7 linked regions of the Homo sapiens genome follow. The protein of the gene in region 4 purifies or fractionates together with the protein of the main gene of each other region. This does not show direct contact. Each region holds a gene or a part of one and is shown on either strand. Other genes may lie near its edges. The genes, in order: MAP4K4, CHAF1A, TOB2, CNOT6L, OBI1, LRSAM1 and DCC.

Region 1 (3,500 bases), on a different chromosome or scaffold from region 4:
GAGGCCTCCTGGTATCCCTGTCCTTTATAATACGCATGCAGCTTTGAAGTAGGGTTTTACCCCTCTCTATAACATATTTGGGATGTGTTTACTTGTTTTCATTGTTATAATGACTAATCATTCTCTTCTCATTGAAAAGAAAAACCACCCCATCCTCACTTCCTGCTGTCTTTCTCTCCCCTTGTCCTTGTCTGTCTCTGTCTGTCACACACACACAAGCTCATCATGGAGCCTGGGTCTGTTCATTTGAGGAGAGTTGCCCAAGTCTGGAATGTAGTCATTCCAGGTGCCTTTGGAATTGTTAGTGAAAGCATGAATCATGTTTGTTGTATTTTATTATTAAGCAGGTTTTGGTTTTAGGTTTCAAAAATTGGTGATCTGTGCTTGTTACAAATAATGACTAATAAGCAGATGTTTACTAATCAGAACCCTCTGATACTTTTTAATTAAAATCTTGATTTCTCTGGGGTTTACCAACCTTAAGAGGAATGGCATACTGTTTTAAAATTCTGTATTTGTTTACAACAGCTGTGTTCTAACAGAAGTACTCTTAGATCCCTTCGTGTATATTATGGGAATGCATATCATCATTTGTTAGACTCCTTAGGTCTTACTGGCCAATTTGAAGTTCTTGGAGAAATCTTTAGCAATAGATTTTCTTCAGGTATTTACCACTAAGTGAATTGTCACTAAAGGTGATTGGAGCAAATGGTTCTTGGTGCTCCATTCAGGTGGTTCTGATGCTTTTCTTTGGGATAATTTGATTGCTGGGTGATTTCTGTGTGACAGGAGTATATCAGGCGACAGCTAGAAGAGGAGCAGCGGCACTTGGAAGTCCTTCAGCAGCAGCTGCTCCAGGAGCAGGCCATGTTACTGGTAAAGCCCCGCCTCTGTTTCATTCTGTAGCATCAGGGCTCCTTCATCCGTCCCCAAAGTTGAGCAAGCTGTGGTGGTCACCAGACCATTTTGGTTTTGCTGTGGGCAGCCAGGCTGAAATAGTGATGCCCATTTTGTGGTCCTATTGCTAGCACATTGCAACATGGTCTTTATTTATTTATATCTCTTTAATAAGTTAATTGTTCTTGTTTGGTAGACCAACAAGGTTTTGAACAGAACTTGGCACTCAGTGAACACACTAGAATGCTGAGGGCAGTAGGTTGAAAGCACATGTCACAGGATTTTTACCTAGTATCTATACCACTAAAACTCACATTTAATTGAATTATCTCTTACTCTGTCCAATGATAATTATGGTTAGCAACAGCTGTGAGATTTTTCCACAGGTAATGTGCTATTTAAAATCCCAGCCATTTTGCTTTCTTACAAAACACAGAGGGAAAATATATGGTCACTTTTTTTAAAAGCCGAACAAATCCAGAGAAGAGGCGAGCTCTCCAGTGTCCCATAGATTTAGTGTTATCCTCTCCCTCTCCAAGGAGTGCCGATGGCGGGAGATGGAGGAGCACCGGCAGGCAGAGAGGCTCCAGAGGCAGTTGCAACAAGAACAAGCATATCTCCTGTCTCTACAGCATGACCATAGGAGGCCGCACCCGCAGCACTCGCAGCAGCCGCCACCACCGCAGCAGGAAAGGAGCAAGCCAAGCTTCCATGCTCCCGAGCCCAAAGCCCACTACGAGCCTGCTGACCGAGCGCGAGAGGTATCCTCTTTCCTTTGTCACTTAGACATTGCCCTGGAAAGTCGTATAACGACTCTTCAGAACTGTGTCATATGAGTTCTAGAACGGGCCATAGAGTTTAGCTAATTATCTGGTTTCTTCATTTTCTAACTAGGAAATTGAATTTCAGAGGAGTGGAGGGCCTTGCCCAAGGTTTCATATTCAGTCAGTGCTTTTTCCATAAAGGACCAGAGTGCCTCAGTTAACATATCCCAGAAGAACTTGAAACTGAACTAAACTAAAAGATTACATGACACAGTCACTCTTAAAAATGTGGATGAGGGAAAGAGTGGTCTGATGAACTATTCTGCCAAGCTAGTATAAAGCTAAAGTGTGCCTGTGGCTCAACTTTCTGACTTTGCAGATGTCAAGATGCCCTGCTAGATTGGTGCATTAGGGTTACCCAGAGCCTCAGAGTAGGCTGCGGCAGGGACTGCTCGGGGGTGCAAGATGGGCGACAGGTGTGCCTCCAGAGGTGTTGAATCCCGGCCCACAGGTGGCAGCAGCCTTCTATTGTGTCTGCCCTCACAGGCAGTAGATTCTAGAAACAAGTGTTCTGTTTGTTCTGGAGTGCTTTTATATTTGGTGGAGTGAAATGCATTCCGGATTTCTGATGATAGTTTTTTAGTCTGTTGGTTTAGTTGCTTGTGACAGATTAATTTTTTTCTACTTCATCATCATATACAGTCTTAGAATTCTGAGCAAGGAGGAGAGCTTAGAGACTGCCTTGCTAATTTTTATCTTCATAAATATTTTCTTTTTCCTGAATCTAATCCTAGCACTGCTTTATGTACCTTCTTTTTTCCAGCTACCCCTCTCTTTTCTGGTAGCAGAAGAAAACAGAAAACTTACCTTTAGATTTCTTCCACTTTTAGACTTTCTTTGATATTTCTGCTTTTCCCCTACTAACACTGAGTTATGTCTTCTAATTCTCTGATGCAGGTGGAAGATAGATTTAGGAAAACTAACCACAGCTCCCCTGAAGCCCAGTCTAAGCAGACAGGCAGAGTATTGGAGCCACCAGTGCCTTCCCGATCAGAGTCTTTTTCCAATGGCAACTCCGAGTCTGTGCATCCCGCCCTGCAGAGACCAGCGGAGCCACAGGTAGCGACAGCCAGCTTTGCTGTGGTTGAGGAGACTCATGCAACGGCTCGCTGAGCCGCAGGCCTGCTGTAATATCACAGTTTAGTTTGTCACCACACTGAAAAAGAGGAGAGATTAGCAGGAGTGAGTTTAGACTAAAAGAAGGCATAGACTCAGTTGATAGGGAAATATCTTTTTCTTTCTTTTTGAGATTTCTATGTACTCATTAAGAGTATCTAGAGTGAGTGATTTCTTCTAACTTTTTGCCTTCCCTAACTCAGGTGTTAAGTGCCTCCTTTTTCTGATACAAAGATCTTTTAGTTTAGTTTTTAGAGAACTGGGATTATAAATACATAGAGGGAGAGCCAGGAATTTTCTTTGAAGTATTTTAAAAGTAAGCGCTTTACTGTGTGAGCCCTGGCTCTTGGCCAGTCCTATGAATGGGCCTTAGATGATGCCCCTGAAATTGCATGCAAAATGTCTTTATTTGCTCAAATGTGTATTTTTTGTGGGGGTGGGGGGAATGACCTTTTATCAGATTCTCACAGGGTTCAAGATCCAAAAAAGTTTAGATCTAGTGGGTTAGGTGTGGATTTCTCTGAAATAGGCCAGGGAAAAGGCTGTGACCTCTCCTTGGGTCTGCTGCAGCGTTCTAGCCTTGGCTAGGTGAGGGGAACTGTTGGGCCGATGCTGTGTGGCTGGAGCAGAACCCACAGTGCTGTCCATAGAGGAGAACAAGCA
Region 2 (4,443 bases), on a different chromosome or scaffold from region 4:
GCTTGAAGGCACTACTGTGATTTTCAGCTCTCAAAACCCACGGACCCGCAACTGAGCCAGCCAATCTCAAAATGTCCAAGTTGCCCTTGTGGGTAGAAGTGCCAGGATTGCAGGGCCAGTAGGCATGTGACAGCCAGCACTGGGAAGAAGCAACAAGAACGCATCTAGACAGACTCGCCCTCCCTGCGGGCGCCATTTGGTTTCCCCAAACCAAGAGAATATTAGGTGACGGCTGTGGCAAGAATTCCACTTTGGGCATCTGCTTCTCCAACGGGCTGGGACGGGGAAGCTCTGTGGGAAACACTCTACCTTCTCTTCTTCTCTTAACCGTTTCTCTTCTTCCTTTTTCCTTTTTTCCTCAAGTTTAGCCCTGTGAGACAGCAAATGACATTTCAGCCGACTCTTTGCTTTGGCTCTGGAAGGGACCGCAGCACTCAACTGTTAGTATATGGCAAGTATTTCATTTTACATTAAATGAATATAAGTTATTTTCATGTCTAGTATAAGGCTTTTACATAGGTCTTCACAATAAAAATGGAAAACAGTCAATAAAATTCTTCCTGTGACTAGAATATATATAAAAAACTTTAGCCAGTCAGAGCACAATTAGCACAGACAAAACCCACAATCCTGCAATGCAAATGCCTAAGTTGGTTGGGAACTGGAAGGATGGTCACAGCAGAGACAAGGGGTCCAGGGTGAGTTGGACGTGGGGGAGCACTAAAGAGCAGGGAGCTGCTTTCCACCGCTCCCACGTCAGGGCCCCACGGGCACCTCACGAAGGAGAAATGGGAAGGAACTGAAGGGAGCCGCCATCTGCCTGTGAAGTGGAAAGGCCCCATCAGAGTGGCCAGGAGCGGAATCCAGCAGCAGGGTGGCGGGCCCAGCATGGCCTCCAAGGACACTCACTCCAGGGCTTCCTGTCTCTCCTTGCGCCGCTCCTCCTTGAGCCGCTGCTTCTCCGCCTTCTCCTTCTCATCCTTCTCCCGCTTCTCCCGCCTCTCCTTTTCCTTAAGCTCCTTCTCTTCCTCCTTCTTCTTCTTGGCCTCCTCCTTGGCCCGCTTGGCCTCCTCTTTCAGCTTCTCCTTTTCTTCCCTTTCTGCACGTAACTTGAGCTGCTTGCCCAGACGCTCCTGATCCTACAAGACAGTGTGGCAAGTGACAGGTGGCCCTCCCTCCAACTCCCAGGAGGAAGCTCGGTTCACAGCATGGAGGACAGCACGGCCTGGACGGGATGAACAGAATTGAGGGACCAAGGCTAGGCATGGTGGCTCACGCCTGTAATTCCAGCACTTTGGGAGGCTGAGGTGGGTAGATCACCTGAGGTCAGGAGTTTGAGACCAGCCTGGTCAACAGGGTGAAACCCTGTCTCTACTAAAAATACAAAAATTGGCTGCGCGCGGTGGTTCACGCCTGTAATCCCAGCACTTTGGGAGGCCGAGGCAAGTGGATCACCTGAGGTCAGGAGTTCGAGACCAGCCTGGCCAAGATGGTGAAACCCCATCTCTACTAAAAATATTTTTAAAAAAAACTAGCCAGGCATGGTGGGCGCCTGTAATCCCAGCTACTGGGGAGGCTGAGGCAGAAGAATTGCTTGAAACCAGGAGACGGAGGTTGCAGTGAGCCAACACGGTGCCACTGCACTCCAGCATCAGTGACAGAGTGAGACTCCATTTAATAAAAAAAAAAAAAAAAATTAGCCAGGCGTGGTGGAGGGTACCCGTAGTCCCAGCTACTCAGGAGGCTGGGGCAGGAGAATCACTTGAACCAGGAGACGTAGGGTGCAGTGAGCTGAGGTCACACCACTGCACTCCAGCCTGGGCAACTGAGACTCAGTTAAAAAAATAAATGAATAAATAAGAATTCAGAGACCAGCTCCAGGAGGAGCCTCCAGTCAACAACTTTACACAGAAGTGATTTTATTTTTCTTGAGACAAAGTCTACTCTGTTGCCCATGGTGGAGTGCAGTGGTGCAGTCATAGCTGGCTGCAGCCTCGACCTCCCAGGCTCAAGTGATCCTCCCACCTCAGGCTCCTGAGTAGCAGGGGCTATAAGCACACACCACTATACCCAGCTATTTTTGTAATTTTCCTAGAGATGGGGTTTTGCTGTGTTGCCCAGGCTGGTCTTGAACACGTGGCCTCAAACAATCCTTCTGCCTTAGCCTCCCAAAGTGTTGGAATTATAGGCATGAGCCCCAGCACCCAGCCACAGAAGTGATTTTCATAATCCATTATGCTTCCTTCCATCATGAGAAAAATGTTAAGAATTAGCCCTGTGTCCTGGTACTTGTGGGAAATTCAATATAAGATTCATTTAAAACACAATCCTGCTGGGCTGAGGGGGCTCACACCTATAATCCCAGCACTTTGGGAGGCTGAGGCAGACAAATTGCTTGAGGCCAGAAGTTTGAGACCAGCCTGGCCAAGAAGGTGAAACCCCAAGTCTACCAAAAATACAAAAAAATTAGCTGAATGTGGTGGCGCACACCTATAGTCCCAGCTACTCAGGAGTCTGAGGCACAAGGATCGCTTAAACCCACAAGGCAGTTCAAGATCACGCCACGGCACTGCAGCCTGGGTGACAGAGCAAGACTCTGTCTGAAAAACAAAACAAAAAAACATTATTTATTTATTTGGAGATAGAGTCTCATTCTAGTGCCCAGGCTGGAGGGAGTGCAGCAATGCTATCTTGGCTCACTGCAACCTCCGTCCTGGGCTCAAATCAGTCCTCCTGCCTCAGCCTCCCGAGTAGCTGGGACCACAGGCACCTGTCACCACACCTGGCTAATTTTTGTAGAGATGGAGTCTCACTATGTTGCCCAGACTGATCTTTAACTCCTGCGCTCAAGCAATCTGTCCACCTCAGCCTCCCAAAGTGCTAGGATTACAGGCATGACCCATTGCAACCAGCCCAGGAATTCTTTTTCTTTTTAGTAGAGACACTACGTTGCCCAGGCTTGTCTCAAACTCCTGGGCTCAAGAAATCCTCCCACTTTGGCCTCCCAAAGTGTGGGATTATGGGGGCGAGCCACTACGCCCAGCCTTGTTTCAAATTCTTTAAGGAAGTAACACTTCATCACTACGTTCCTCATTCCAAAGACTTGGCAGTGGCCTGGGACACTCAGTCATTACGTAATCTGAAGTTCAATGTTAAACATGCTCAGCCAGGCGCAGGCTCCCACCTGTAATCCCAGCACTTTGGGAAGCCGAGGCAGGCGGATTACTTGAGGTCAGGAGTTCGAGACCAGCCTGGCCAACATGGTGAAACCCCGTCTCTACTAAAAATACAAAAATTAGCTGGGCATGAAGGCACGTGCCTGTAATCCCAGCTTCTTGGGAGACCGAGGCAGGAGAATCGCTCGAACCTGGGAGGTGGAGGTTGCAGGGAGCCGAGATCACGCCGCTGCACTCCAGCATGGGCAACAGAGCGAGACTGTCTCAAAATAAAAAAAAAAAACGCTCACCTGCCCAGCTCCACAGGTGCCCGCTCCTAACACTGCATGAGGACCACCTCTCATCCAATATGGGCTTCCCACACGTCTGGAGCCTGACAGCTCAGCTTTCAGTTTGGGTTAGGATATCTGCCCTTGTCTCTAAGGAAAAATTCTAAATGTGTTCCAATACATCTCTGGTAGCTTTAACAAAAGCCACAGAGACACAGCCTGGAAGATGTCTGATGTGCATTTCCTGCCAGTGTGCTGTGTGACTGCATCTGATATACGAGACACACGAGGAAGGTGACCGTCTGGACTGAACAAGGAGACTATAAACATAACTGGGTGAAGAGTCTCCCACCCTGTTGCTAAGCAGGAAATAGAAGGCTTCTAGAAACTGCAGGTGAATCAGATTTCTTCAGCCGCCGTTGGATACTTTCTCCGCTCCCCAACCCGGTGTGCGGGACTCGGAGGTTCCAATGAGCTTTAAAAGTGCTCTTGTTCCAAAGAATGAGATAAACTGTAAAAATAAAAATCAGGCTGGGCGTGGTGGCTCACACCTGTAGTCCCAGCACTTTGGGAAGCCAAGGTGGGTGGATCACCTGAAGTCAGGAGTTTGAGACCAGCCTGACAAACATAGCGAAACCCTGTCTCTACTAAAAATACAAAAAATTATCCAGGCGTGGTGGCTCGTGCCTATAATCCCAGCTACTCGAGAGGCTGAGGCAGGAGAATCGCTTGAACCCGGGAGGTAGAGGCTGCAGTGAGCCGAGATTGCACCACTACACTCCAGCCTGGGCAACAGAGACTGTGTCTCAATAAAAAAAAAAGTAATAAAATAAAAATCAACCCCAAATCTGAAACACAAAAACTCAGTGTGGCCATCAGGAAGCTCAGGAAACGCCCAGTGAACATCAGGGAGCTCAGGAAACACTCAGTAAACGCAGAGCCCATGGTCACCAGGCCCCTCCTGTGAGCTGGCACTGCATAGGCAAAGCCCAGAGGCC
Region 3 (4,443 bases), on a different chromosome or scaffold from region 4:
AAAAAATGAGGCTGGACATGGTGGCTCAGGCCTGTAAACCTACCACTTTGGGAGGTTGAAGCAGGTGGATCACTTGAGGCCAGGAGTTCAAGAGCAGCCTGGCCAACGTGATGAAACCCCGTGTGTACTAAAAATACAAAAATTAGCCAGGTGTGGTGGTGCATGCCTGTAATTCCAGCTACTCAGTAGGCTGAGGTGGGAGAATTGTTTGAACGTAGGAGGCAGAGGTTGCAGTGAGTCGAGATCACGCCACTGCATTCCAGCCTGGGTGACAGAGACTTCATGTCAAAAAAAAAAAAAAAAAGCCAGGTGTGGTGGTACATGCCTGTAGTCCCAGCTACTTGGAGGCTGAAGTGGGAGGATCACCTGAGCCCAGGGAGGTGGAGGCTGCAGTGAGCTGTGATCCTGCACCCTAGCTTGGGTGACAGAGTGAGACCCTGTCTCAAAAAAAGAAAAAGAGGCCAGGCGCGGTGGCTCATGCCTGTAATCCCAGCACTTTGGGAGGCTGAGGTGGGTGGATCACGAAGTCAGCAGTTCGAGACCATCCTGGCCAACATGGGGAAACCCCGTCTCTACTGAAAAAAAAAAAAATTAGCCAGGAGTGGTGGTGCACGCCTGTAATCCCAGCTACTTGGGAGACTGAGGCAGGAGAATCGCTTGAACCGGGGAGGCAGAGGTTGCAGTGAGCCGAGACCGTGCCATTGCACTCCAGCCTGGGCGACAGAGCAAGACTCCGTCTCAAAAAAAAAAAAAAAAAGAAAGAAAAAGAAAAAAATAGACATTTGAAGAAACTTAGAGATGAAGTCTGTGTTGGAGGCTGGGAAAAGAGGGAAACCAGGGTATTCTGAGTCCTGAGTGTTCTTGTGGAGGGTTTGGGAGAGGCATAGTTGTGGTACCTCTGCTGACTCCCATGTGACCTTCTCTGTTCCTCAGAACTGAAATGAGGGTTAACTAGATTCAGCCACTGTCATGCTGCTCCAGATTGACCCAGTGAGTCTTCTCTGATACATTCACCCCAGAAATCTTTTTCTGAGGATTTAGTCCCAAAAATGCCCCTTAAGGCCGTGTGTGTTGGCTCATGCCTGTAATCCCAGCACTTTGGGAGACCAAGGCAGGCGGAACACTTTAGGTTAGGAGTTTGAGACCAGCCTGGCCAACATGGTGAAACCCCATCTCCACTAAAAATACAAAAACTAGCCAGGCGTGGTGACGGGCACCTATAGTCCCAGCCATTCAGGAGGCCAAGGCACGAGAATCACTTGAACCTGGGAGGTGGAGGTTGCAGTGAGCCAAGATCACGCCACTGCAGTCCAGCCTGGGCGATAGAACGAGACTCAGTCTCCACATACATACATACATACATACATACATACATACATACATACATACATACGTAAAATTAAATTAAATTAAATGCCCCTTAAGAGCCATGGGCCCAGGCCTGAGAATTACAGGGAAATGTGTTGGGGCAGGTGTTTAGAAAACTCAAAATCCCCAAGCCTGAAATTAGCACCTGGATACTTCAAGCTGGATCCAGAAAGGATTTGAATCAAAATCCAGCCCCAAGTCTTTCATAGGACAGAAGATGCCCTTGACAGTTCATGGAGCAGTCATGTCTCTTTGCTTAGCTCAGCAGCACAGCCTTGCCCAGAGGTCTGGCTAGGAACATGTTCTGGCTCTGCCTCCTCTCAGAGATGGCTCTTTCAGTTCAGTTTCTCCCCCAGCATGAGCCCCGGAGCTGCCCTTTTGGAGAAAATGAGATTAGGATCACTGGCTCTCAGGACCTCACAGATCATCTTCCTGAGACATGAGGCTGGCCCAGGCCAAGGGAATAAACCTTTTTGACCTCAGTGGGATCTGGCTGTGAGAGAATCCCAAAATAACAATCTGGTGTTTATCTTGGGCTGCCTTCTCTCCGGGGATCTCAAAACACTTGATAAATCTGATCTGCTGCCGAGGACAGGTGGTCAGACAGTCCCTGGGAGACTGAGTGATGATGGGTCCCTACCGGAGGCTGCAGGGTGATGGAAAATTTCTTTCCTCTGCCACCCTCATCACTTACATTCTCACCAGAAACTACAGAGATTCCCCCTCCTTTTCTCTGCTTCCCTGTGGCAGCCCCGAGTCAGCAGTTCCCTTGTTGGTCCACATCTCTGATTGTGACAGGTCTTGCCTTTTTCCTGGGGCTCATGCTCTTGTCTTATGTCTTATTCCTTTTTTTTTTTTTTTTTTTTTTTTTTTTTTTGAGACAGAGTTTCGCTCTTGTTGCCCAGGCTGGAGTACAATGGTGCGATCTCGGCTCACCACAACCTCCGCCTCCTGGGTTCAAGCGATTCTCCTACCTCAACCTCCCGGGTAGCTGGGATTACAGGCATGCACCACCATGCTCGGCTAATTTTTTGTATTTTTAGTAGAGACAGGGTTTCTCCATGTTGGTCAGGCTGGTCTCGAACTCCCGACCTCAGGTGATCCACCCGCCTCAGCCTCCCAAAGTGCTGGGATTACAGGCATGAGCCACTGCACCTGGCCGGAGTTCTTAAATCAGTTCTGCAAACCTGGACTGAACCAGACAGCATACACACCCATGGGGCCCATGATGACAGATGGATGTGACTGGAGTCCAGGCCCCCAGTGAAGAATTGGCAGTGCTCTTTCCTGTTCAGTGACCTGTATCCCTTTTCATTTAAGGAGGACAACCAAATATTTTAAACTTACATCTTAGTCTGTGACAGTTTGGGGGCACGACTTCACCAAGATATTGCAGAGACAGCAAGAGACTTCTTCTTCACCTGATTTAGGGACTTGATTTTTTTAGTGTCATTCATACAGTGACCTGAATTCTCAAGATGGTGGAAAACACAGCTTCCCTATTTCTTTAGAATTACTTTAAAATAGTAGCTTTTTTTTTTTTTTTTTTTTTTTTTTTTGAGATGGAGTCTCACTCTGTCGCCAGGCTGGAGTACAGTGGCATGATCTCGGCTCACTGCAACCTCTGCCTCCTGGGTTGAAGCAATTCTCCTGCCTCAGCCTCCCAAGTAGCTGAGACTACAGGCATGCGCCACTATGCCCAGCTAATTTTTGTATTTTTAGTAGAGATGGGGCTTCATCATGTTGGCCAGGATGGTCTTGATTTCTTGACCTCGTGATCTACCTGCCTCAGCCTCCCAAAGTGCTGGGCTTACAGGCATCAGCCACCGCGCCCGGCCAATAGTAGCTAACTTTATCAATTACCTTTTAATTGCCAGGTACACTGTGAGGCAGTTTATATCCTTGAACTACCTTAACTTCATGATGGCCTCATGTTACTAATGAGGAAACTGGGGCCCACAGTCAGACATGAGCCACTGGTGGGGCAGAAATAGGCTCCTGGTTCTGTGTGATCCAAAGTTGGTGCTTTTCTGTCTATCCCTAGCTGTTGGTCACCACCAGCTTTCTGCATATTTTCTCACGGTGCCTCTCATTTCCCAGAGCCGCCTGGAGCCCAAGGCTGTACACGTGCCCTGTGCTGATTCTCTGCCTAGGAAAGGACCATGCAGCTAGAGATCAAAGTGGCCCTGAACTTCATCATCTCCTACTTGTACAACAAGCTGCCCCGGCGCCGGGCAGACCTGTTTGGGGAGGAGCTAGAGCGGCTTTTGAAAAAGAAATATGAAGGCCACTGGTACCCTGAGAAGCCACTGAAAGGCTCTGGCTTCCGCTGTGTTCACATTGGGGAGATGGTGGACCCCGTGGTGGAGCTGGCCGCCAAGCGGAGTGGCCTGGCGGTGGAAGATGTGCGGGCCAATGTGCCTGAGGAGCTGAGTGTCTGGATTGATCCCTTTGAGGTGTCCTACCAGATTGGTGAGAAGGGAGCTGTGAAAGTGCTGTACCTGGATGACAGTGAGGGTTGCGGTGCCCCAGAGCTGGACAAGGAGATCAAGAGCAGCTTCAACCCTGACGCCCAGGTGTTCGTGCCCATTGGCAGCCAGGACAGCTCCCTGTCCAACTCCCCATCGCCATCCTTTGGCCAGTCACCCAGCCCTACCTTCATTCCCCGCTCCGCTCAGCCCATCACCTTCACCACCGCCTCCTTCGCTGCCACCAAATTTGGCTCCACTAAGATGAAGAAGGGGGGCGGGGCAGCAAGTGGTGGGGGTGTAGCCAGCAGTGGGGCGGGTGGCCAGCAGCCACCACAGCAGCCTCGCATGGCCCGCTCACCCACCAACAGCCTGCTGAAGCACAAGAGCCTCTCTCTGTCTATGCATTCACTGAACTTCATCACGGCCAACCCGGCCCCTCAGTCCCAGCTCTCACCCAATGCCAAGGAGTTCGTGTACAACGGTGGTGGCTCACCCAGCCTCTTCTTTGATGCGGCCGATGGCCAGGGCAGCGGCACCCCAGGCCCGTTTGGAGGCAGTGGGGCTGGCACCTGCAACAGCAGCAGCTTTGACATGGCCCAGGTAT
Region 4 (4,443 bases):
ACAGCCTCACACCCTCCTAAATATAGCAGTTTGAAGGATAGAACATAATTTAAGAAAATTGTCTTATTATAAAAGCAATGCTATAATACTATACTGTATTAAAAAGAGATCATTCTAGAGAAGTTGAAAATTTTGAAAAAATATAAAGCATGATGGAGGGAAATACCTAATTTCATGTCATAAGATAGTTGTGTTAAAACTTCTGGAGTATTTTTCTTCTATACATTAAGTAAAATATATTTACAGATACATTTTGATTCTTATTTATTGTACTTAATGGATTTTCCATGTTACTAAAATTCTTCAAAACTCATTAATTATATGAACGTATATTGATGTAGCTTTTCCCATACCATTGGACACATTTAGTTGTTTATGGGTTTTTGCTGTCATAAACTCATGCTGTTAGAAACATCTGCATACATAAATTATCTTCATATTTATTTCATTTAGAAAGACCTGTTAAAATATTTTATGAGTCAAAGAATAAAATAGACTAATAATTATTAAATTAATAGAGGCCATTGGATGATTGCGATTTAGGTACTTAAAAATTTCTTAAAGTAGAATTTTTTGTGGATAGATTTTACGTTTCTCACTCTTGGGTATCATTTCTTTCCACCATAGTTCAGAAGGATATGCAAGTTTTTAAATTACCTTTTTATATATAAATTACTATTCCCTATCACAGAATCTATCATATACCCAACTTGCTTTGTTTAGTTGCCAGTCTTGAGGAAGTAAAGTATAATGGAGTGAACTGTAAATTGGGAATCAAGAGACCTTGGGATGTAGTCCTACTCCTGTTACTATCTGTGTGAGCATGAGAAAATCATGTCACCTTTCTGGTTCTTTCATGTTTAAAAAGCTGCCATTGTCAAGTAGCAGCTGCTAGCAATCAGGTAAGATAGTAAGATAATATTTGCTATGTGAATTATTTTTACTAAGTTACATCTTACTCATAATGCTGAACATTTTTATATCTTAATCAGCATTTTCCCTCTGTCATATAGATGATAACTTTTCTTTCATCTCAGGAAGTGGAAACAGAGCAATACTTCACTCTCTTTCTGCCAGCATTGAAGGAGCGTGGATATGATGGATTTTTTTCTCCAAAGTCACGTGCCAAAATCATGTCTGAGCAGGAGAGAAAGCATGTAGATGGTTGTGCAATATTCTTCAAAACAGAAAAGTAAGTTAAGGAAACAAAGCACAATGGTGTACTTTTATTTATTTAAATGCTTACACTTTAAAATTGTCTTTGGTTTTGCCCTATAAAATCAACAGAAAGCTAGAAAACAAGTATTATGCAACTTAAAACTGTTGTTAATGTTTCATTTCTCAGGCTGTGTATTCGAAATAAGGATATTTATTGTATTATTCCTTATGCTTTTATTACCAAATAACACTGAACATTTTAAGAGATACAGACTTGAATGGTCTCATATTTCAGAACATATTTTCATGAAGTAAAGTATTAGTTTTTGTGTAAAAAAAGAAAGTGATACCTTTTAAGGTTGGCCATAAGTGATCTGGGTTTCTTTTCTGTGATTTTTTTTTAATAATTGATTTTTGAGAATCATTCATTTTAAAATCATTTATTCACTAAATGTATACTGAGCATTTGCTTTGTGATAAGTCCTGTGCTAGACACAACAGACACAAAGATAGTCAAGACATAGTTCCTAATCTCACTGAAAGCTCAAATCCAGTAGGAAAAACTAGGCATATAAGACAATTGCAATATCATATGGTGTAATATAAGATAGAGGTCTGCCTGGGTAGATAAGAGAGGCAGGCACAGAGCATATGGAGGTAGAGAGTTAAAAGGGTTGACTGAGACAGGGCAATGGAAAATGAAACGTGACATCTGATAGAGGTTGAATCCCATGGTTAATAGTTTGGATTTCATACGTTAGGAAATCATCTTACAGGATAAGCATATACATGCTTACAGCTGTTTTCCAGTATTTCCCCATTTTACATCTATTTTACCAAAGCCAATCTGTTTTTATTGATCCAAGCATATTACCAGCATGACATGCTATTTTAAGTAAACAAATTCAATGAATTTGAAAGATATTTGGTCCACTTCCCATTTATCTATGCCTACTTTCCTGTCTTTTCCATGAATTTGTAGTAGAGATATTCTTATTTTGGTTAATAATTAGTACAAAGCCTTGTAGTATTTGAGGTCAGAATATACTAAATTCTTCTAATGGTTTGGTAATTTTTTATGCATTTTAGAATAATTCTATTAAAACTACGTATCTCTTAACTACGGGAATATGTTCTGAGAAATGCATCATTAGGTGATTTTGTTGTTGTGGGAACATCATGAAGTGCACTTACACAAACCTAGATGGTACAGCACTATACACCTAGGCTATAAGGTATAGCCTGTTGTTCCCAGGCTAGAAACCTGTACAGCATGTTACTGTAGTAAATAGACAATTGTAATACAATGGCATTTGAGTCTAAACATATCTAGACGTAAAAAAGGTAATGTATTGTGCTGTGATGTTAAGACACCTACATCATCACTGGGTGATAGGAATTTTTCAGCTCCATTATAGTCTTGTGGGACTACCATCGGCATGTAGTCCCTTGTTGACTGAAATCTTGTTATATGGTATATGACCGTACTTCCAGAGTGTTTGCCATCTGTCAGCCTTTTCGAATTGTTTATATTAGTTGTCTTGTTCAAATTTTAAAGCAACTCTTACAGGCAGCTATACAGCTATTTCCTTGTTTTTAAAGATGAGGAAACCAAGGTACAGACAAGTTCAATAACTAGTTCCAGTTACACAGTCTGATTTCATAGTCCATGCTTTTAACTACTGTAATAAACTGAATCTTTAGCCTTCTTGTTTGAGCTTTTGATATCACTAATACCTCTTATAAGATTACCTCATTTAGAAAAATTGCCCTGAATTTGACATTTGTTTTTGTTTTTAGACAGGGTCTCAGAGTCTTACTCTGTCACCCAGGCTGGAGTGCAGTGGCGATCATGGCTCACTGCAGCCTCAACCTCCCCAGGCTCAGGTGATTCTGTCACCTCAGCACCCTGAGTAGCTGAGACTACACGTGCATGCCACCACACCTAACTAATTTTTGTATTTTTTGTAGAGATGGGGTCTTGCTGTGTTGCCCTAGGCTGGTTTTGAACTCCTGGGTCCAAGCAATCCACCCGCCTCAGCCTCCCACAGTGCTGGGATTACAGACGTAAGCCACCGTGCCTGACGATATTTGTTACCTATGTTCATACACAAATCCCCTTGAAACACCATAGCTTAAAAAAAAAATGCACCAGTAAACTTGAGACATCTAACATCAGGCTCTTTTTCTATTTGCTATAGTTTCTTTCAAGATAATATGGAAGATTTTTATTATTACTCTCACAGTTTTGAGAGGAAAAATCTAAAATTCCTTAACAATTTACTAGAAGTAGTTAAGGCTTTGAAATAACAGTTAGAACTGTTATCTGGGTATTTGCAAATTGATTCTTGAATTATTAAAAATGCTGTGAACTAGTTAAGTAATGAGCACATAGGAAGTACTTAGATGTGTCACCTGTTTTTCTTTTCTTCCTCAACTCTTTTTTCCTGAATAGTAACATGGATCTGGCAACAGATTGAATGTGATACATCAGTATATTGTACCTCTTTTCAACTTCTTTCCTGGAATGACAGGACTATATACCTCCTATAGGTAGAACAAAACCACCTTCTGTCCCAGTACCAGATATTTATCCATGTCTTAGCTGACTATTCAGTGCCAACTATTTGGAATTTAAAGTATTATACCCTGCCTTTATTCTTTCTTCAGACTGGAAATATAGGGCAAAAAAAGACTGTGAGTTTTGAAGCCAGGTGCTTCTTCTATTTATTTAGCTATATAATGTTGAAAGACTTAGCATTTCTGGACCTGTTTCTTCATTTGTATATTCTTATCTTGTAAGATCATTTTTGTAGAGGTTACAAAACTAACAAAGATAACTGTGGAAGAGTAGTCAACACTGTACTTACTCTCAGTCTCTTTCTTCTGTAATCAGAGTATCTGATAATTCCTCATCTTCACTGATGACTGTTTAATCATACATGAAAAACTGGTACAGAATACGCAACAATAAATGGAAACTATCATAATTGCCATTTATAGCAAAATACTATAATAAAAATCTCTAATCCATCATGATGAAAGGATAGAGTATTGTTTAGTAAAGGCTAGGACACAAGTTACCAATATTCAGATAATTAGAATATAATACACTGTTCTTTAAATCACATTATTCTAGTTTAGTTTTGGGGGATTCAGAATCTACTTCAGGATTTGGCAGCACCTGTTTGGTCATCATTATGAACATCATTTTTTGGGAGTTAGATGCATAGAGATACTAGAAAATAGAACTTTGAGTGATAAAATACCAGATCTCAGCTTTTG
Region 5 (4,443 bases), on a different chromosome or scaffold from region 4:
CAGGGTTTCACTGTAGCCAGGATGGTCTCTATCTCCTGGCCTCGTGATCCGCCCGCCTCGGCCTCCCAAAGTGCTGGGATTACAGGCGTGAGCCACTGCACCCAGCCAGTAATACATTTTTATATAATCTCTTGGTTAAATGTAAATGTAATAATTGGTTTTATTATTTAAATATAGTCTAGTTTTCAGAATTTGAAGTAGTCCAAATGTGATAATTACAGCCCTTTCCTCCACTGAGTTTGCTGTGATAAGATATGTAGATATGTAAATACAATATGATGTGTTACTGAAGGTATTTCTTATGGTGTTATTTGATATATTTTTTTTTCCTCAAGATTAGGGTAGAGAAAAGGCCTAGATGTAAGCCCCAAGTGTGTATGTAAGGGGAAGGGTAGATGTGAAGCTGGGAAGCTATATAAAACAATATGAAAAAGGATCATTTTCATTCTTCCCGAATCAGAATGAAAAATTAGGATTTTTTTTTTTTTCCCTACAGGAGGAACAAGTGAAAGTGAACCTATGCTAAGCCATACGGTCAGGAAGCATCTTCGGAAAACTAGACTTGAATTACTACACAAAGAATATGAGGTAAACAGTAATCAAAGTTTAAAATTATGTTAGCAGTGAATTCAAGGTAAAAACTGACCTACCTCAGTCCCCAGACTTCTTAGAGTAAATATCCAATGAAATTTTATTTTAAAAGCCTATAAAAAGAAATTGTTTGATAAATTCTTTTTTCTTTTTTCCTTTCGTATTTTAAATAGAGGAAAGAGATTTTTTGTTTTATTTTTTTTCTTTAAGTACCAAGGAATGGGGGAATGGGATTCCAGAAAAAAGGAACAGATGGAAGCATTTCTTTCTTTTTTTTTTTTTTTTAAGTTAAAATTTGTACCTCCACAGACATATCATTTTGTATTTGCTTCCTCAAGAAGTTGGGAGAAAAAGGAAATCTCCTTGTGAAAGCCAGTCTGACCTCTGCAGTCATCAGTTGCTTCTGCCTATGAAGTTACTGATGATTATAAGCCTGATCAATTCTAGTAAAGTAAATACTATACCTTATGTCAACTGCCAGCACAGAGATTTTAGTGTGAAACATGCTGTTTCCTAATTATTGTCTAAAGGTGAATGAACAGGATGATTGGACATGGTGATGCTATTTTTACAAATAAATTCATGCTAATAGAATACATACACTTTTGAATAGTACACATTAAGCCCAGTTGTCATTTTATGTTGACTGAAGAAGGAGATATCGATCCCCTCTTGACTCAAAATATCTTTCAGTTTAACTGTGTACATGGAAGGTGCCTCAACTGCCTCAAAAATTTTTGGAATGCAGTGGGGTATAAATACATGATTGAATATATGTTTATTCATATATGTGTTCCTTACATATATGAATTTGCTTGTTTTATGAAAATGCTATTTAAGTTGAAATGTATTGCAATTTAAAATAGTAAGTAGTACTATCTGTGTGACATTTAATGCTAAAATGTATTTTTATATAATGAATATTTATCATACTCAGATGGTAAACAAATTAATCCTTTGGGAGATCACTTGAGCTACTTGGGGGTTTATTTTCTAGCAGAATTTTTAACAACCTCAATTTAAGGTGACATATTTATTATAGATGAATAAATGGCATCATAGTAAGAAGTTCTAACCCAAATGTTTAGTGACTGGTTTTAGGATAATAAACATTTCCAGAGTGGGAAGGCTAATACTTGCAATAGTCACAGTAGTAATTGAAGAACCAGAATCCAGAAAAGTTGAAAATTCAAAATTAACTACAGATATTATTCTGGAATGAAAAGTAGAAGGAAATGGTAGATGGTTTCACTCATACTTCAAATATAGAAGTGAAAGTATAAATATCAAAACCCTAACAATCCTCTTTTTCTTTTTTGAGACAGAATCTCATTCTGTCACCCAGGCTGGAGTGCAGATGGCATGATCTCGGCTCACTGCAACCTCCGCCTCCTGGGTTCAAGCAATTCTCCTGCCTCAGCCTCTCAAGTAGCTGGGACTGCCGGTGCCTGCCACCACACTCAGCTAATTTTTTGTATTTTTAGTAGAGGCGAGGTTTCATCATGTTGGCCAGGCTAGTCTTGAACTCCTGACCTCAGCTGGCCCACCTGCCTTGGCCTCCCGAAGTGCTGGGATTACAGGCACGATCATCTTGATAACTCTGTACAGTCAGCCCACCATATCCAAGGATTCATCATCTGTGGATTCAAACAACCAAGATTGAAAATTAAAAAAATAAATATATATAAAAATAATGTAGTTTAATAACTATTTGTATGACATTTACTTTGTATTGGTTATTATAAATAATCTAGAGATGACTTAAAATGTATGGAAAGATGTATGTAGGTTATATGCAAATACAGCACTAGTGATTTTCCATCAGGAACTTGAACATCCATGGATTTTGGTATCCCTAAGGGTCCTAGAACCAATCCCCTGTAGATGTGGGGATGAGGTGGGGACAAACTGTACCTTTTTTTTTTTTAACCCGGCCCCCCTCAATGTACTTTCAAATTCCCCTCAGTAAAGCAGTTGAGTATGCCTCAAGTTTTTTGTTTTTTTGTTCTTTTTTGAAATGGAATCTACTTCCCTGTTGGAATTCATGTGACTTTTCTTATTTTCTGGATGATATCTTTTTTTTGTTTGTTTGTTTTGTTTTGTTTTTGTTTTTGTTTTTGTTTTTAATTATACTTTAAGTTTTAGGGTACATGTGCACATTGTGCAGGTTAGTTACCTATGTATACATGTGCCATGCTGGTGCGCTGCACCCACTAACTCGTCATCTAGCATTAGGTATATCTCCCAGTGCTATCCCTCCCCCCTCCCCCCACCCCACAACAGTCCCCAGAGTGTGATATTCCCCTTCCTGTGTCCATGTGATCTCATTGTTCAATTCCCACCTATGAATGAGAATATGCGGTGTTTGGTTTTTTGTTCTTGCGATAGTTTACTGAGAATGTTGATTTCCAATTTCATCCATGTCCCTACAAAGGACATGAACTCATCATTTTTTATGGCTGCATAGTATTCCATGGTGTATATGTGCCACATTTTCTTAATCCAGTCTATCATTGTTGGACATTTGGGTTGGTTCCAAGTCTTTGCTATTGTGAATAATGCCGCAATAAACATACGTGTGCATGTGTCTTTATAGCAGCATGATTTATAGTCCTTTGGGTATATACCCAGTAATGGGATGGCTGGGTCAAATGGTATTCCTAGTTCTAGATCCCTGAGGAATCGCCACACTGACTTCCACGATGGTTGAACTAGTTTACAGTCCCACCAACAGTGTAAAAGTGTTCCTATTTCTCCACCTGGATGATATCTTAAATAGAATCAAAGATTTGGCATTTTTAAAAATCACAACTAACATTGAATTAAAATGAAGGCAACATAAATCCCAATTTTTATCAGTCAGGCCACATTTTGAGAATTTAAACTGTATGTGACTTTCTCCCTGCAAAACTCTTTTGATATGTAAAGAATCTATGTATCTACAGAATTTTAAGTACAAAATTCAAACCATGTTGGCTTCAGTTTAGCATATGTATGTATGTGTTTAGTGTCTATGCCTGCCTCATGACTATGCAATGCTTTTTCAGGACGAAATAGATTGTTTACAGAAAGAAGTAGAAGAGCTTAAGAGTAAAAATCTCAGCTTGGAGTCACAGATCAAAACTATTCTGGATCCTTTAACCTTGGTGCAGGGCAACCAAAATGAAGACAAACATCTAGTCACAGATAATCCAAGTAAAATTAACCCAGAAACTGTAGCAGAGTGGAAGAAAAAACTCAGAACAGCTAATGAAATCTATGAAAAAGTGAAAGATGATGTGGATAAGCTAAAGGAGGTAAGTTGTGGTTTTTAAAAATCTATTATGGTTGTTTTTAAAATAAGTACCTTCAAAAGCATAAATAGCCATATTATCTTGACTCATCATCAGATGATTTGTGAGGAAAGGACAGAATCTCTGGATGAGCATTTATATGCAATAAGAAGACTTTTTCTTATTTAAATATCATTAACTGCCAAGAAATATCAGGTGGTTCCATGTGTGACTATAATTAGAGACTGTTGTGCTTCTGTATAAGATTGCATCTTCTTCTAGAAGAATAATACCAATTTAAAGGATGTGTTTCTGTTTCGTCCTCTTTGTGGTTTGCCATAGGTTTTTTAAGCTTATATCAGCGACTTCCCCTGTGTACCTAAAAACAAACACATAACCATTTTCGCACCAATGAAAGGAAAAGTTTTGACCTTATCTTTTCTTTTGCTACCACTCTCTTATTTTTAAGATTGTAGATAGATAAAGACTTGGTGACTAATTCCAGGACAGCAATAAGCAGCTGCTTCAGAGTACCTCATGCAAAAGAATGTTGTGATTTATGAAACTGGTTCATTTTTTT
Region 6 (3,500 bases), on a different chromosome or scaffold from region 4:
CAAACATTTAAAAATGCCAACTTTGCTGGTAATCAGAGGAGAGGCATGTTAAGTTAAAACAACATTGAAATACCATTTCCTTCCTCAAGATTGGCACACATTTTGACATGACAATTTCTGTTGGCCAGAGTATGGGAAAACAGGTGTCCTCATAAACTGCTCTTGGGAGTGAAAATTGGTATCACAACTTTGGAGGATAATTTGACAGTAGGTGTCAAAAAAGATTTTATTATTTTTTTATTTTTTTTTGAGATGGAGTCTCACTCTGTTGCCCAGGCTGGAGTGCAGTGGTGCAATCTTGGCTCACTGCAACCTCCATCTCCCGGGTTCAAGTGATTCTCCTGCCTCAGCCTCCCGAGTAGCTGGGATTACAGGGATGCGCCACCATGCCCGGCTAATTTTGTATTTTTAGTAGAGACGGGGTTTCACCATGTTGGCCAGGCTGGTCACGAACTCCTGACCTCAAGTGATCTGCCCACCTCGGCCTCCCAAAGTGCTGGGATTACAGGTGTGAGCCACCACACCCGCCAGATGTCAAAAATTTTCATGGGCACAGCCCGTGATCCAGAAGTTCCGCTTCTCAATGTATACCCAAGATAAATGCTTGCATGAGGAGACATTTGCAGGAGTGTTTATTGCAGCCTTATTTGTAGTATTGGATGCCCCCCAAATGTTTGTCAGTGAGAAGGCACTGCCCCTGGGTCATGTGCACACCATGAGATGGAGCATTTGAGCCTCGGCTCGCTGGGACACATGGATTAGTGAAAAGGGCAGATTGCAGAACAGGATGGGCTAGTCTATTTCCATTCTTATGTTTAAAAAGAAAACTCAATCAACACCAGCCTGGGCAATGTGGCGAGACCCTGTCTCTACAAAAAATACAAAAAAATTAGCCAGGCATAGTGGCACGTGCCTGTGGTCCCAGCTACGAGGGAGGCTAAGGTGGGAGGATGGCTTAAGCCCAGGAGGTTGGAGTTTGCAGTGAGCTAAGATTACACCACTGCACCCCATCCTGAGTAACAGAACTAGACCCTATCTCAAAAAAGAAAGAAAAAGAAAACTCAAAACAAAAAAAGGAAACAGACAGGTAGTTGCCAGTGGCTGGAGTGGGAAGAGGATTTGATGATGAAGTGGCATGAGCGAATTTTCGAGGGTGATGGAATTGTTTTCTTTTTTCTTTTTGAGACAGAGTCTCACTCTGTCACACTAGGCTGGAGTGCAGTGGCATGATCTCAGCTCACTGCAACCTCTGCCTCTCAGGTTCAAGCAATTCTCCTGCCTTAGCCTCCCGAGTAGCTGGGATTACAGGCACCTGCCACCACGCCTGGCTAAGTTTTGCATTTTGTTAGTAGAGACGGGGTTTCACCATGCTGGCCAGTCTGGTCTCGAACTCCTGAACTCAAGTGATCCACTTGTCTCAGCCTCCCAAAGTGCTGGGATTACAGGCATGAGCCACCGCGCCCAGCCAGAATTGTTTTCTATCTTAATTGTGTTTAGAGGTTACAGAACTCTATGCATATATAAAGATTCATAGAATTGTTCACTAACATTGGGTGAATTAGAGTAAATAGATTATACTTGATTAAAAAAATGTTTATATATGCACACAAATACAAATATATTTCTTTCCCAAAGGCACAAATTATATATGTACAGATGCATGCCTTGGGCCTGATAATGACAGTTACACCTGACAGGAGGTGTGGGGTGGGAGGGGAACCAGGGTTAGGCTGGAGTGGTCAGTAGATGCTTTAGTTTTTTATACCATGTTTCAAACTTTTACAAGGAGAATATATTGAGATGTTATCTGTATAATTGAAGATTAATTTTAAAATTATATTCCTACCATTAGTATAGGCAAAATCCTATTTATAGGTTGCTGCTTTTATAATTCAGAGACTGATCCTGTTCTCAAAACAGGATAACTAAATAGAAGGACCATTCAAAAAATACCTGTGTGCCAGGCGCAGTGGCTCACGCCTATAATCCCAGCACTTTGGGAGGCCGAGTCGGGTGGATGCTTGAGCTCAGGAGTTTGAGACCATCCTGGGTAACATAGCAAGACCTTGTCTCTACCAAAAATACAAAAAATTAGCCAGGCATGGTGGTGCGTGCCTGCAGTCTCAGCAACTTAGGAGGCTGAGGTGGGAGGATCACTAGAGCCCAGGAGGTCGCGGCTGCAGTGAGCTGAGATTGTGCCACTGCACTCCAGCGTGGGCAAGAGTGAGACTCCATCACAAAGAAAAAACTTGTGTGGGCCGGGCGCAGTGGCTCATGCCTATAATCCCAGCACTTTGGGAGGCCGAGGCAAATGGATCACCTGAGGTCAGGAGTTCGAGACCAGCTTGGCCAATATGGTGAAACCCTGTCTCTATTAAAAATACAGAAAATCAGCCGGGTGTGGTGGTGGGTGCCTGTAATCCCAGCTACTCAGGAGGCTGAGGCAGGAGAATTGCTTGAACCCAGGAGGTGGAGGTTGCAGTGAGCCAAGATTGTGCCATTATTGCACTCCAGCCTGGGCAACAAGAGCAAAACTCCGTCTCAAAAAAAAAAAAAAAAAAGAAGAACCTAACTCTTGTGTATATGTGTATTGCTGTTTAATTACATCAATAATAAATTAATTAATTAAACACCAATAATTACATTACATTATTGATGTTTAATACCTGCTCCTTGTTATAAATTTAAACAATACAGACAATTACAAACCAAGTGAATGTCAACCCTTCCACCCTGCACTCCCGTTGCCTGGAGGTAGTCATCATTAACTGATTAATGACTGTCCTTCTTGACCTTTGACTCAATACCTTCACACATATGCTCAGAGTTGAGTTTTCTTGATGATGTTTTTGCAAAAGTAGAATCATGCTACACACAGGTGAGGGATCTCACACATTCGCCCCATTGGCGGTTGTGTAATAGTCCACTGTATGGATGCACCATGACTTACGGACAGATGTTGATAGATGTATGAGTTATTTCCAGTGTTTTTGCTCTTTTGAATAATTCTGCAGGAAGTTGTACCCACACCTTTGTGCACTGTGAGTATTTTGGTGGACTGGAACCGGGTGCTGTAGGTGTGTTACGCAGACATCCATGGGCATCAGATATCCCATTTCCTGCTCTGCTCTTCAGACCACCATCCCTGCTCAGGGCTGCATCCCAGAACTGTCTTGAAGAGCCCCTCCTACAGTGCCATGCACACAGTGACAGCCCAGGGGTTCTCATCAGGTGTCCACTGGAACCACCTGGTGCCCTTGATCAATACGGATCCCCTCATCCCCCGACCCCACCATTCTGAGGCAGTGGTCTGGGGTGGGCCAGAGTTTGTATAACATCAGGCCACCCGGGGGTTCCTGGTGCCCATGCCAGGGAGAACCACTGCTGCCACCCTCTCTTGACCACTGTCTTTTTTTCCTCCCAGAACAGGTTCTCAGACTATGAGAAGAGGAAGGTAAGAAAATGCCTTTACCCTTCTGTCACTCTTTTCTCATTAAAGA
Region 7 (4,443 bases), on a different chromosome or scaffold from region 4:
CAGATTCATGCCAGTCAGTTTTTCCTATGCCATTTTTGCTATGGAAGTTCAAACTCTCAGAACTGTATTACAGGCCTACAATGTATATCTGTCCAAAGCTAGGTGTTATCCAAGCCTGGGGAAAATACACAGACAACATTATTAAGTAAGGCTGTAGTTAAACCTGGAATGGTGGTATCATTTGTTGATTTTAGGTAACCATAGTGTGGCCATTGCATTTACCATTTACAAGCTATATACAGGTCCATATGCAGGAATACAAAATTATGAAAAAATACAAAATTTGCAGAGAATCAAAATGGAAGCTTTTTCTTAACACATTCTGTATCTGAACCTGACCTGACCTCATGCTAGGCTATTCATAGTCTCTAATGAGCCCATTTGGCATGAATATCATATGCTTTACTGCAAATATATAGTTACATTTGATTAACAATGTAAACAATTTGATATGAGTATCATATGCTTTACTGCAAATATATAGTTACATTTGATTAACAGGGTGCTACTACAGACCCCATTAGGGAAAAAAGAAAAAAAAACCCTGCACAGATACTATGTTACTTTTCTAAAATCTGAAAGTTTCAAAATCTTAAGATACCTGGGCTGGGTGTGGTGTCTCACACCTGTAATCCCAGCACTTCGGGATGCCAAGGCAGGAGGATCGCTTGCCAGGAGTTCAAGACTGTCCTGGGCAACAACATAGTGAGACCCAGTATCTACAAAAAATAAAAATAAAAAAATAACTGGTCATGATGGTGCATGCTTGTAGTCCTACCTATTCAGGAAGCTGAGACAGGAGGATTGCTTGACCCCAGGAGTTCAAGGTTGCAGTGAGATGTGATCATGCCACTGCACTCCAGCCTGAGAAACAGAGCAAGACTCTGTTTCTGGAAAAAAAAAAAAAAAGTGTTTTAGGTAAACGATTGTGGATCTGTGCTGTCTAATTTCATTAGCAGACAAGTTATTTATCCTTCTTAAGTAACAATAATAAGAGAAAATGTAATACTAAAAAGTGGAATTGAAAATGGAACACTAAAATTCATTTAATGAACCCAGAATCAGGCAAGATTTTAAAACTCTGACTTAAAGAAAGACAATGTGGTAAATTATCCATAGCTGTGCGACCTATTTTAATTATAAGTAGAACCATAATATACAAGTACTCCAAATGTACTTTCTCTTTTCCTTCTGCAGTTATTAGCCATGTGCAGGCAAAGACATAGTGGCATAGTGGCAAATTTTTCAGACTAAGAATTTAGATTCACAATCCCACTCTTTGCTGCCATTATCTTAGTCACTTGTACTCCTTTACCAGTTTCTCTAAATGTAAAATAAAATAGGCAATTTTGGTTAATGTAAGCTTTCTTATGAATTTTAAAATGAAGCGATTCTAAAGCTTCCAGAGTTTATATTTTTATATTCTTATTCCATATTATTCTAAAATACATACTCCTAGAATTTTATTGAACTGTAAAAATGTAATTTTGTTTGTTTTGAGAACAAAAACCCACTTATCCTAATCACTTTTCTTTCTTTCTTTATTATTTTTTTATACAGTGCAAGTTCCAGGGCCAGTAGAAAACCTGCAAGCTGTATCTACCTCACCTACCTCAATTCTTATTACCTGGGAACCCCCTGCCTATGCAAACGGTCCAGTCCAAGGTTACAGATTGTTCTGCACTGAGGTGTCCACAGGAAAAGAACAGGTAGGTGAAGGAATGGACCACACTGCTTCCATCTGTTGGATGTTTCCATCCATTGGATAGCTCTAGGGCTGGAGAAATAGGAAAAGACTCGCAAACTCTTGAAACAGCCCAGTGTTAACACATTCATTGAAAAGCTGATTAGTTTTAAAGCACTTGTTATTGGAAACTTTACACAATTTAATTAAATTCTGGTGGTAAGAGGTAAATGGGCAATAAAGTGAAGTCAATAGAAAGGATACCAATTTTTTGGTTGAGTCTGCAGTGGCCTGGCGTGTGTGGGCAACCAGATTTGTATTAACTCACCTGGTCGTGGAAGGCATTTGCAGTTTTATTCCTTAGACTAAGGGGTGATTGCCCTCCTAGTCAATGGCGTTTGCCAAACTGCTTTTTTCATTCTAAGACATTTATATCTAACTCCCTTCCATCATCAGGATGTGTCCTACCATTTTTTAATGTTTTCAGAAGAACTTACTCTGAGAAGCCTAGTCTCCTTCTCCTTACATTTTGCTCCTACCCAATGGTTAGCATAGACACCTGAAAAGAAGCAAATTAACTGTTCAGGTAAACTAAAAGTAAAAAGGTCTTTAGGGAGACACATGAAACTGAAAAATTCTATTTGGTGATACATGCACACACATATGTTAAAAATAGAAATTGAGTTTCATATATATGTGTATATATAATATGTATACCTATATAATACATATATATTACATATATACGTATATGTATTATACATGTATAATACATATATAAGCATAATACATATACATATATTATATATTATATAATACATATATACATATACATATATAATACATATACGTATACATATATAATACATATACATGTGTATATATACATATATGTGTTATACATAATACATATATACCACATATATGTATTATAACACATATATACCACATATATGTATTGTAACACATATATACATATATGTATTGTAACACATATATGTATATATGTATATATACATATATGTATTGTAACACATATATGTATATATGTATATATACATATATGTATTGTAACACATATATGTATATATGTATATATACATATATGTGTATATGTATGTGTTATATATAGTATATATAATATATAATGTATATGTATTACATATCTATGTATATACATGTATTATATATAATACATATCTATGTATATATACATGTATGTATTATATAATACATATCTATACATCTATATGTATATAATACATATCTATGTATAATATATAATACATATATGTATACATATATATAATATATGTATACATATTTATAATGCATATATATATGTATGACTGTTGAGGTATTTACTTCCAGATTCTCAACTTCATGTAGGAAAATATATACAGACATGTATATATTCAATAGTTAAATCAAAAATTGGCCCCAGGATATGGGAGTTCTTATTATTTGTTGTGAAGCTTGTCAAGCATAGAAAGGCCTTCCTGCTTTCACATAAACTGCATGATCAGAATTTTTACTTAAAAATAAGAAATATTTTATATTCAAAAATAGCTCAAGCCCAGTCCCAAATTATATTATAAGATAAGCATTACAAGAGCTCCTCCTATGTAATCATGGGTTGTATTTTTTTCTTGCTATCTTCAAGCTATTTTTTGCTCTTGTTTTTTCAACTTTCTGTTTTATCTGCCTTTCTATATATTTTAGCTCTTCAACGCATTTTGCCAACCAATTTAAATAAATTCAAAACCATCATCATCCAAGATAGATGTGAGTGTGAAGATCTGATTCCTCAGTAACCTTCACCTCCAGTATCTCATTTACTGCAGCCATGAGAGGCTCAAATAATTTCAACCAATCTAACAGCATTTTGGGAGATAAAAATTGTGGCAAAGTGTCTGACAGTTTCAAGAGCTGTGGGTATATTTCAGCAAGAGAAGCACAAAATCTATTATTTCTTGGTGAATTATTCCATTTTGGGTACAGGAGAAAATCTCTGTTCCCATGGCGTTATAAGCTGCCTTCTGCCTGTGAGGGTTTAGGTGTGGGTAGAATAACCCAAACCATTCAGTACATTGAGTAGTGTTAAACAAATTGGAACTTAATGACTGTAAAAATAGCATGTGCTGTTTTAACAAGGAGTCTACAGATTAGTTGGTTTTTAGTGGGGGAGTCTGTGTCACAAGGTAGGTTTTATAGCTCATTAGAAGGCTGGAGTGTAGTTTGTAAGAGTCTAATGTCCAATTCACTGATTGCACAGAATGAGTGCCATTTCTACTTTAATGTGCTTCCTTGATAACAGTTTTGGTGTTTTATGTCTCCAGAATATAGAGGTTGATGGACTATCTTATAAACTGGAAGGCCTGAAAAAATTCACCGAATATAGTCTTCGATTCTTAGCTTATAATCGCTATGGTCCGGGCGTCTCTACTGATGATATAACAGTGGTTACACTTTCTGACGGTAAGTTAAAAACAGTGAAACTCCTTTTACATATTTGACATAATATTGACAATAATGACATGATATTGCACATATATCATATATTCCATTTTCAAGGCTTCCTGACTAAAATTTTATGGACTATTACAGTTAAATGTAAACTTTCTATCAAGATACATACTCCCAGCTGGATGTGGTAGTTCACACAGGTAATCCTAGCACTTTAAGAGACTGAGGCAGGAGGATGAGTTAAGCCTAGGAGTTCAAGACCCACCTGAACAACATAGTGAGACCCTATCTCT

What was found.
Region 1: the proteins of CNOT6L (region 4) and MAP4K4 purify together in Homo sapiens (affinity purification with mass spectrometry; one large-scale study listed by BioGRID and IntAct). This does not show direct contact.
Region 2: the proteins of CNOT6L (region 4) and CHAF1A purify together in Homo sapiens (affinity purification with western blotting; one study listed by BioGRID). This does not show direct contact.
Region 3: the proteins of CNOT6L (region 4) and TOB2 purify together in Homo sapiens (affinity purification with mass spectrometry; one large-scale study listed by BioGRID and IntAct). This does not show direct contact.
Region 5: the proteins of CNOT6L (region 4) and OBI1 purify together in Homo sapiens (affinity purification with mass spectrometry; one large-scale study listed by BioGRID and IntAct). This does not show direct contact.
Region 6: the proteins of CNOT6L (region 4) and LRSAM1 purify together in Homo sapiens (affinity purification with mass spectrometry; one large-scale study listed by BioGRID and IntAct). This does not show direct contact.
Region 7: the proteins of CNOT6L (region 4) and DCC purify together in Homo sapiens (affinity purification with mass spectrometry; one large-scale study listed by BioGRID and IntAct). This does not show direct contact.

Annotation. Positions count from the first base shown.
Region 1 is NC_000002.12:101,858,207-101,861,706, forward strand, and holds part of MAP4K4 (mitogen-activated protein kinase kinase kinase kinase 4), read left to right. Parts: intron 1-789; coding exon 790-876; intron 877-1,436; coding exon 1,437-1,658; intron 1,659-2,618; coding exon 2,619-2,780; intron 2,781-3,500.
Region 2 is NC_000019.10:4,419,262-4,423,704, reverse strand, and holds part of CHAF1A (chromatin assembly factor 1 subunit A), read right to left. Parts: intron 1,140-4,443; coding exon 910-1,139; intron 371-909; coding exon 310-370; intron 1-309. UniProt on the Homo sapiens protein: Acts as a component of the histone chaperone complex chromatin assembly factor 1 (CAF-1), which assembles histone octamers onto DNA during replication and repair.
Region 3 is NC_000022.11:41,436,433-41,440,875, reverse strand, and holds part of TOB2 (protein Tob2), read left to right. Parts: intron 1-3,468; 5' UTR 3,469-3,530; coding exon 3,531-4,443. UniProt on the Homo sapiens protein: Anti-proliferative protein inhibits cell cycle progression from the G0/G1 to S phases.
Region 4 is NC_000004.12:77,738,890-77,743,332, reverse strand, and holds part of CNOT6L (CCR4-NOT transcription complex subunit 6-like), read left to right. Parts: intron 1-1,013; coding exon of another isoform or gene 1,014-1,037; coding exon 1,038-1,192; intron 1,193-3,129; coding exon of another isoform or gene 3,130-3,225; intron 3,226-4,443. UniProt on the Homo sapiens protein: Has 3'-5' poly(A) exoribonuclease activity for synthetic poly(A) RNA substrate.
Region 5 is NC_000013.11:78,638,267-78,642,709, reverse strand, and holds part of OBI1 (ORC ubiquitin ligase 1), read left to right. Parts: intron 1-496; coding exon 497-588; intron 589-3,638; coding exon 3,639-3,887; intron 3,888-4,443. UniProt on the Homo sapiens protein: E3 ubiquitin ligase essential for DNA replication origin activation during S phase.
Region 6 is NC_000009.12:127,475,510-127,479,009, forward strand, and holds part of LRSAM1 (E3 ubiquitin-protein ligase LRSAM1), read left to right. Parts: intron 1-3,424; coding exon 3,425-3,454; intron 3,455-3,500.
Region 7 is NC_000018.10:53,203,656-53,208,098, forward strand, and holds part of DCC (netrin receptor DCC), read left to right. Parts: intron 1-1,560; coding exon 1,561-1,709; intron 1,710-4,023; coding exon 4,024-4,162; intron 4,163-4,443. UniProt on the Homo sapiens protein: Receptor for netrin required for axon guidance. Mediates axon attraction of neuronal growth cones in the developing nervous system upon ligand binding. Its association with UNC5 proteins may trigger signaling for axon repulsion.